2 separate regions of the Homo sapiens genome follow, and region 2 is linked to region 1. Evidence: fine-mapped expression QTL. A gene starts in region 1. The other region holds a variant in brackets. All regions are shown on one strand. Distances are between the middles of the regions. Region 1 holds the start of SMG8 (SMG8 nonsense mediated mRNA decay factor). Region 2 overlaps PRR11 (proline rich 11).

Evidence for each region. PIP is the estimated chance that this variant, and not a neighbour inherited with it, causes the effect.
Region 2: its variant is the best candidate, but not a certain one, in a credible set for the expression of SMG8 in subcutaneous fat (FUSION, PIP 0.65).

The regions. Positions count from the first base shown.
Region 1 is chr17:59,207,693-59,212,079 of GRCh38, forward strand. SMG8 (SMG8 nonsense mediated mRNA decay factor) reads left to right here and starts at 2,343. Exons shown (of 4, transcript NM_018149.7): 1 at 2,343-4,118. The coding sequence starts at 2,360. RefSeq lists an enhancer at 2,152-2,221.
Region 2 is chr17:59,179,499-59,183,885 of GRCh38, forward strand. All of the region lies in intron 2 of PRR11 (proline rich 11), which reads left to right. It also overlaps the pseudogene SPDYE22P. Among named protein-coding and RNA genes, the nearest start is that of PRR11, 26 kb to the left of the region's middle. RefSeq lists an enhancer at 2,880-3,381. The variant GT/G (reference allele first, on the strand shown) is at 2,528.

The sequences.
Region 1 (4,387 bases):
AGAAGATCAAGACCATCCTGGCTAACACGGTGAAACCTGGTCTCTACTAAAAATACAAAAAATTAGCCGGGCGTGGTGGCAGGCGCCTGTAGTCCCAGCTACTTGGGAGGCTGAGGCAGGAGAATGGCATGAACCCGGGAGGCAGAGCTTGCAGGGAGCTGAGATCACGCCACTGCACTCCAGCCTGGGCAACAGAGTGAGACTCTGTCTCAAAAAAACAAAAAAGTATATAGTAAGTATAGAAAATATATGAATTAAAAAATCAATGCCGAGCGTGATGGCTCAAACCTATAATCCCAGCACTTTGGGAGGCCGGGGTGGGCAGATCACCTGGGGTTGGAAGTTCGAGACCAGCCTGGCTAACGTGGGGAAACCCCATCTCTACTAAAAATACAAGTTTAGGTGGGCGTGGTGGTACGTGCTTGTAATCCCAGCTACTTGGGAGGCTGAGGCAGAAGAATTGCTTGAGGAGACGGAGACAGGGAATAGGAGATGGAGGTTGCCGTGATCCCAGATAGCACCACTGCACTTCAGCCTGGGTGACAGAGTGAGACTCTGTCTCACAAAAAAAAAAAAAAAAAATTTTAGGCCGGAGGCGAGGTGTGGTGGCTGACACCTGTAATCCCAGCACTTTGGGAGGCCGAGGTGGGTGGATGATGTGAGGTCGGGAGTTCGAGACCAGCCTGGCCAACATGGTGAAACACCATCTCTACTAAAAATACAAAAATTAGCCGCCCATGGTGGTGCACCTGTAATCCCAGCTCCTTGGGAGGCTGAGGCAGTAGAATCACTTGAACCTGGGAGGTGGAGTTTGCAGTGAGCTTAGATTGCACCACTGTACTCCACTCTGGGCAACAGAGCAAGACTCTGTCTCAAAATATATATAATATATATTATTATGTATATATATAATATATATTATTATGTATATGTGTAATATATATTATTATGTATATATATAATATATATATTATATCATAATCCCTTCCCTCACTAAGTAATCACTGACCTACTTGGTACAATAAATATTTCCTTGCTTTTAGTAAGAACACACCCCTAAATGCAATGGTTTATTTTGCTTGCTTTTGAACTCTATAGAAATAAAATCAGGCCTGGCGCAGTGGCTCTCGCCTGTAATCCCACCACTTTGGGAGGCCGAGGCGGGCAGATCATGAGATCAGGAGATTGAGACTATCCTGGCCAACATGGTGAAATCCTGTCTCTATTAAAAATACAAAAGTTAGCTGGGTGTGGTCTCACGCACCTGTAATCCCAGCTACTTGGGAGGCTGAGGCAAGAGAATCACTTGCACCGGGGAGCCGGAGGTTGCAGTGAGTCGAGATCGCGCCACTGAACTCTAGCCTGGCCACAGAGCAAGACTGCATCTCCAAAAAAAAAAAAAAAAAAAAAAAAAAATAGAATTATAGGGTATATACACTTTTGTTTCTGATTTCTTTCAATCAACATTTATTTTAAAGATTCAGTCATGTTATTGTATAGTGCTATAGATAATTTTTTTAGATTCAAAGATTTTTATTTTTTACAAAACCCCAGAATAATAAACGTTATAATTATACATTTAAATCTGGTTGTAAGTTTTATCCTGGCAGCTATTTGTCAATATGCCTTCTAGTTAGAGAGGTTCTGCAAGTTATAATTTACATACAAAGATATTTCGCAATTTTTTTTTTTTTTGAGACGGAGTCTCACTCTGTCGCCCAGGCTGGAGTGCAGCGGGGTGATCTCGGCTCACTGCAACCTCCACCTCCTGGTTCGAGCAATTCTCCTGCCTCAGCCTCCTGAGCAGCTGGAACTACAGGTATGCGCCACCACGCCTAATTTTTGCTTTTTTTTTTTTTTTTTTTTTTTTTTTTAGACGGTTTTCGCTCTTGTTGCCCAGGCTGGAGTGCAATGGTGTGATCTCGGTTCACTGCAACTTCCGCCTCCCGGGTTCAAGCGATTGTCCTGCCTCAGCCTCCCGAGTAGCTGGGATTACAGGCGCCCGCCACCACGCCCGGCTAATTTTCGTATTTTTAGTAGAGATGGGGTTTCACCATGTTGGCCAGCCTGGTCTCGAACTCCTGACTTCAGGTGATCCGCCCGCCTTGGCCTCCCAAAGTGCTAGGATTACAGGCGTGAGCCACCGCAGTAGTCCCAGTTTTGTTTTGTTTTTTTGTTTTTTGTTTTTGATATCTCAATTCCTACAGTTGAGGAAACAAACTAGGAGAGGAGAAGAGGAGGCGGAACTCAAGTGACGGGAAAGCAGGAACTGAAGAAGCGGAGGAAGGATTTCAAAATTGGACGAAAGCCGGTCGGTTTTACTAACGGACCGGAAGGACTCTAGAGAACGCTCTGCACTATGGCTGGTCCCGTGAGCTTGCGAGACCTTCTAATGGGAGCATCAGCCTGGATGGGCTCTGAAAGTCCCGGAGGGTCCCCTACTGAGGGCGGAGGGAGCGCGGCTGGCGGACCGGAGCCTCCATGGCGGGAGGATGAGATCTGCGTTGTGGGAATCTTCGGCAAGACGGCTCTACGCCTGAATTCCGAGAAGTTCTCTCTTGTGAATACGGTGTGCGACCGACAGGTCTTTCCTCTCTTTCGCCACCAAGATCCTGGGGATCCAGGACCTGGAATCAGAACTGAGGCTGGCGCCGTGGGTGAGGCCGGTGGAGCCGAGGACCCTGGGGCTGCAGCCGGGGGTTCAGTTCGGGGAAGTGGAGCTGTCGCGGAAGGTAACCGAACTGAGGCAGGCTCCCAGGACTACAGCCTTCTGCAGGCCTACTACAGTCAGGAAAGCAAAGTTCTGTATCTTCTCCTCACCTCCATCTGTGACAATTCACAGCTTCTCCGGGCTTGTCGGGCTCTTCAGAGCGGGGAAGCTGGAGGTGGACTCTCTTTACCTCATGCAGAAGCACACGAGTTCTGGAAGCATCAAGAGAAGCTGCAGTGCCTCAGTCTCCTTTACCTATTCTCTGTCTGTCATATCTTGCTTCTGGTCCATCCCACTTGTTCCTTTGATATCACTTATGATCGAGTATTCAGAGCCCTGGATGGGCTGAGACAGAAGGTCCTGCCGCTCCTTAAAACAGCCATTAAGGATTGTCCAGTTGGCAAAGACTGGAAGCTAAACTGCCGACCTTGCCCACCTAGACTCCTTTTCCTCTTTCAACTCAATGGAGCCCTCAAGGTAGAACCTCCTCGGAACCAAGACCCAGCTCATCCAGACAAGCCCAAGAAACATTCTCCCAAAAGGAGGCTGCAGCATGCCCTGGAGGACCAGATCTATAGAATCTTCCGGAAGAGTCGTGTCTTGACTAATCAGAGCATCAACTGCCTCTTTACTGTGCCTGCCAACCAAGCTTTCGTGTACATAGTACCGGGAAGCCAGGAGGAGGACCCAGTAGGTATGTTGCTGGACCAACTTAGGAGTCATTGTACTGTGAAGGACCCGGAATCTTTGCTGGTGCCTGCACCCCTTTCTGGGCCTAGGCGATACCAGGTGATGAGGCAGCACAGCCGACAACAACTTTCCTTTCACATTGACAGCAGCAGTTCCAGTTCTTCAGGCCAGCTAGTGGATTTCACTCTTCGGGAATTCCTATGGCAGCATGTGGAGCTAGTTCTAAGCAAGAAAGGTTTCGATGACAGTGTGGGCAGGAACCCACAGCCTTCCCATTTTGAACTTCCTACTTATCAGAAGTGGATCTCAGCAGCTTCAAAACTGTATGAGGTGGCTATTGATGGGAAAGAAGAGGACTTGGGGTCACCCACTGGAGAGCTAACATCTAAGATTTTAAGCAGTATTAAAGTCTTGGAAGGATTTTTGGATATTGACACAAAATTCTCAGAAAACCGATGCCAAAAAGCTTTACCCATGGCCCACAGTGCCTACCAGTCAAATTTGCCTCATAATTACACAATGACTGTCCATAAGAATCAGCTTGCCCAGGCTCTTCGAGTGTACAGTCAACATGCTAGAGGTCCAGCATTTCACAAATACGCCATGCAGTTACATGAGGACTGCTACAAATTTTGGAGCAATGGCCATCAGCTCTGTGAGGAGAGGAGTTTAACTGATCAACACTGTGTGCACAAATTTCACTCATTACCTAAATCAGGTAGCTAAAATTTGTTCAGCATTTTGAAATAAAAACTTTGAGCTGTGTTTTCATTCTTGTTTTAAGATAGTCTGTTCACTATGTATTGATATTTTAGAAAGAGCCCTACAGAAATTTAGGTGCATCAGCTATACGTTTTCTCTCCTGCTGTAAAAGGAAAATATCAGCTATGACTACTTTCTTATTTTTTTTCATTTAAAGGATACGTCCTAGTGAATTGGTAAGTGAGAATTATTAAGTAGTATAAAATTTCAGACATCTCATATTAA
Region 2 (4,387 bases), 28 kb before region 1:
GTCCCTCATGAGTGATCACTTCTGAGTCCTCCCGCATGGAGAGCTCACCCACTGGGGGCATATTTTTCCCATTGGAAAAGTGTGGTTATTGGAAGTTTCCTCTTTTTTAAAAGAACAGGATTGGAGGTGCTCTCTGGGGTGTCCTCCTACCAAGCAGCCTGTTGAAAGTCTCGTGGTGCTCAGGGAGCACGGGTGACACTCGCCATTGCTTCAGCTTCATCTTGAGCCCACACAGCGTCTCCGCCACCCAGGTCTCCTCAGGCTCAGGGGCGAGCTCCTTCTCTGGCTCCTCCTCCGATGACTCCTCAGATTCGTCCGACCACTCCCTCTTCCTTTTCCAGCAAAGGGACCCACACAGGGGGCTGGGATCTACCCCAGGGGCTGAGTAAAGAAACCAGGCCACTGTATAATGCTTCTGCAATTGAACTCCTTAGAGCCAGACCCAAAACGCCAAACCACTCTCCATCCTCCCCAGCCTCGCAGACTGCTGGCTTCTCCAAGCCATCTTTCCGTCTTTCTCCTTTGCTGAACCCCATGAGCCGCTCCTTCCCCTCCCCATTCTTCCATCTCTCTGTCCTCAGAACACTTCCTCATTTCCTTCCCTCATCCCTAGTTCTCTGAGTCTCTCCTTTTTTTTTTTTTTTTTTTTTGACACAGAGTCTTGCTTTGTCGCCCAGGCTGGAGTGTAGTAGTGCAATCTCGGCTCACTGCAATCTCCGTCTCCCAGGTTCCAGTGATTCTCCTGCCTCAGCCTCCCAAGTAGCTGGGATTACAGGTGCCCGTAATAACGCCCAGCTCATTTTTGTTCTTTTAGTAGGGATGGGGTTTCACCATGTTGGCCAGGCTGGTCTCAAACTCCTGGCCTCAAGTGATCCGCCTGCCTTGGCCTCCCGAAGTGCTGGGATTACAGGTGTGAGCCACTGCACCCTGCCTCAGTCCCTCCATTCTTCCCACACACCTCCTCAGGTGCTCCTTCCTGACTTCTGGGCCCGTCCTTGTTTTTTTTTTTTTGTTTTTTTTGTTTTTTTTGCCACAGGGTCTCAGTCTCTCAGACTGGAGTGCAGTGGTGCTATCTCGGCTCAAAGCAACCTCTGCCTCCCGGGTTCTAGAGATTCTCCTGTCTCAGCCTCCCAAGTAGCTGGGAATACAGGCGTGCGCCACCACACCCGGCTAAGTTTTGTATTTTTAGTATTGACTAGGTTTCACTATATTGGTCAGGCTGGTCTCGAACAACTGACCTCAGGTGATCCACCCGCCTCAGCCTCCCAAAGTGCTGGGATTACAGACATGAGCTACTGCGCCCGGCCTTTGGTTTTCTTTTGAAACAGGGTTTTGTTCTGTCATGCAGGCTGGAGTGCAGTCGTGCAGTCATAGCTCACTGCAGCCTCAAAGTCCTGAGTTCAAGCAATTCTCTTGCCTCAGCCTCCCAGTGTGCTGGGATCTCAGGCATCAGCCACAGCACCTGTCCCGAAACCAAACTTTCTTTTTTTGTTGTTTTTTTGTTTTTTTGAGACAGAGTCTCTCTCTGTCACCCAGGCTGGAGTGTAGTGGCGCGATCTCAGCTCACTGCAAGCAACACCTCCGGGGTTCACGCCATTCTGCTGCCTCAGCCTCCCAAGTAGCTAGGACTACAGGCGCCCACCACCACGCCCAGCTAATTTTTTATATTTTTAGAAAGACTGTGTTTCACCATGTTAGCCAGGATGGTCTCGATCTCCTGACCTCGTAATCCGCCCGCCTCGGCCTCCGAAAGTGCTGGGATTACAGACGTGAGCCACAGCGCCCAGCCCAAAACCAAGCTTTCTTATCCCGAGAGCCAAACTTTATCAACTCCAGCCTAATCCTCTATCATCTCCTAAGCGTCCCTCATGAGTGATCACTTCTGAGTCCTCCCGCATGGAGAGCTCACCCACTGGGGGCATATTTTTCCCATTGGAAAAGTGTGGTTATTGAAAGTTTTCCTCGTTTTTAAAAGAACAGGATTGGAGGTGCTCTCTGGGGTGTCCTCCTACCAAGCAGCCTGTTGAAGTCCTCATGGTGCTCAGGGAGCACGAATGACACTAGCCGTTGCTTCAGCTTCAGCTTCATTTTGAGCCCACACAGCATCTCCGCCACCCAGGTCTCCTCAGGCTCAGGGGCGAGCTCCTTCTCTGGCGCCTCCTCCGATGACTCCTCAGATTGGTCCGACCACTCCCTCTTCCTTTTCCAGCAAAGGGACCTACATGGGAGGCTGGGATCTACCCCAGGGGCTGAGTAAAGAAACCAGGCCACCATGTAATGCTTCTGCAACTGATCACCTTAGACCCCGACCCCGACCCCAACCCCAAACCACTCTCCATCCTCCCCAGCCTTGCAGACTGTTGGCTTCTCCAAGCCATCTTTCTGGCTTTCTCCTCTGCTCAACCCCATGAGCCGCTCCTTCCCCTCCCCATTCTTCCGTATCTCTGTCCTCAGAACACTTCTTCATGTCCTTCCCTGGTCCCTGGCTCTCTGAGTCCCTCCTTTTTTGCTTGTTTTTTTGTTATTG[GT/G]TTTTTTTTTTTTTGTTTCGAGACAGAATCTTGCTTTGTCGCCCGGGCTGGAGTGTAGTGGTGCAATCTCAGTTCACTGCAACATCTGTCTCCCGGATTCCAGTTATTCTCATGCCTCAGCCTCTCAGGTAGCTGGGATTACAGGTATCTGCCATAATGCCCAGCTCAATTTTGTACTTTTAGTAGAGATGGGGTTTCACCATGTTGACCAGGCTGGTCTCAAACTCCTGGCCTCAAGTGATCTGCCCGCCTTGGCCTCCCAAAGTGCTGGGATTACAGGTGTGAGCCACTGCACCTGGCCTGAATTTCTCCATTCTTCCCATACACCCTCCTCAGGTTCTCCTTCCTGACCTCTGACCCTTCTTTTTTTTTTTTTTTTTTTTGAGACAGTGTCTCACTCTCTCACCCAGACTGGAGTGCGGTAGCACAATCTTGGCTCACTGCAACCTCTTCCTCCCAGGCTCAAGTGATTCTCCTGTCTCAGCCTCCCAAATAGCTGGGATTACAGGCGCGCACCACTACCACCTGGCTAATTTTTGTACTTTTAGTAGAGATGGGGTTTCACCATGTTGGCCAGGCTCGTCTTGAACTCCTGACCTCAGGTGATCCATCCGCCTCGGCCTCCCAAAGTGTTAGGGTTACAGGTGTGAGCCACTGCACCTGGCCCCCTTCCTTCACCTTAGTCAATCCTATCCCACCTCTTCTTCCTCCAGTCCCCTCACCTGATGGTCCCGACACTTCATCATCCACCACCTCCTGGAGGGGGTACCCTGAGGTGCTCAGCTGGGGGCTCTGCTCCTCATCCTGGGGGTGCGGTTGATGGCTGGTCATGATCTTTCCCAAAATCTATCCCAACCCACGGAACCTAGTCTCTGTTCTATCCAAGGCCTTCTTCTGGACTCTGCTAGGACCCAGAAGGTGTGTTATCAATTCTCGAGGCTGAGAGAAGTCAGGAGTGGAGAACAGCTCTGAGAAGATGCAGTTGTCCACTTGAGCTCCCAGATGCCCATGGAGTCCAGTCCTTCCAATCAGGAAGGTTGGAATCTCTGATGTCATTGGTCATTCCAACCTGGCAACCAGTTTGAAGAAAAACACATGTAACTGCCAGGCTGGTCTCTTGTCCTGGAGATCCTGGGTGAATGGTATCTCCTGCCACTGTCCCAACCTCAGACCACCATCCAAAAGCATCTTCAGGGTCTCCGCATCCATCTGTTCCCTGTCCCAGCAGAGGCTGTGTCTTCTCCACTCAAAGCCTGAAGCATTTTGGGGTCTCCTCTTCTCTGTACATGCCCATTTCAGAGTCCAGTCTGGTGGGAGAGGGAGGGTGGGAAAGAAAACTAGGGTAAGCAGAAACTATGAAACCTTACAAGTGTGAGATTATCATATACAAGAGATCCCAGGAACATTGACTTGATGAAAAAGTCACATCAGAGCACTCAATTTGGCAGAGCTTTTCTGCCGAATGTTTACTGACATTCACTGTCCGAGATTCTATACTGGGGGTACACGTGTCCTCTGCCGTAAGGCATCTTTGAGTCCAAGAGACATTTTGAGGCCTGAAAATCATAGGAAACTGCCCATGAGCTCACTCATATTTCCAATGGTGTCCCCAGTTTCAGGGAGTCCATGGATTACCTAAGGCCAGCCCCTCCAGTTCGGCTAAGAAACTCTAGTCTATATATTAAGTTTTGTATCATATGTATTGCTCTGAACTCAGAAATTTCCCTACCATTTATGGATTCTATGAATAAAATATCGCATGTACAAAAAGACTAAGTCGAAAAATCTCAGCTGTGCACAGTGGCTCATGTTTGTAATCCCAGCACTTTGGGTGGCCAAGGGAGGAAGATTGCCTGAGG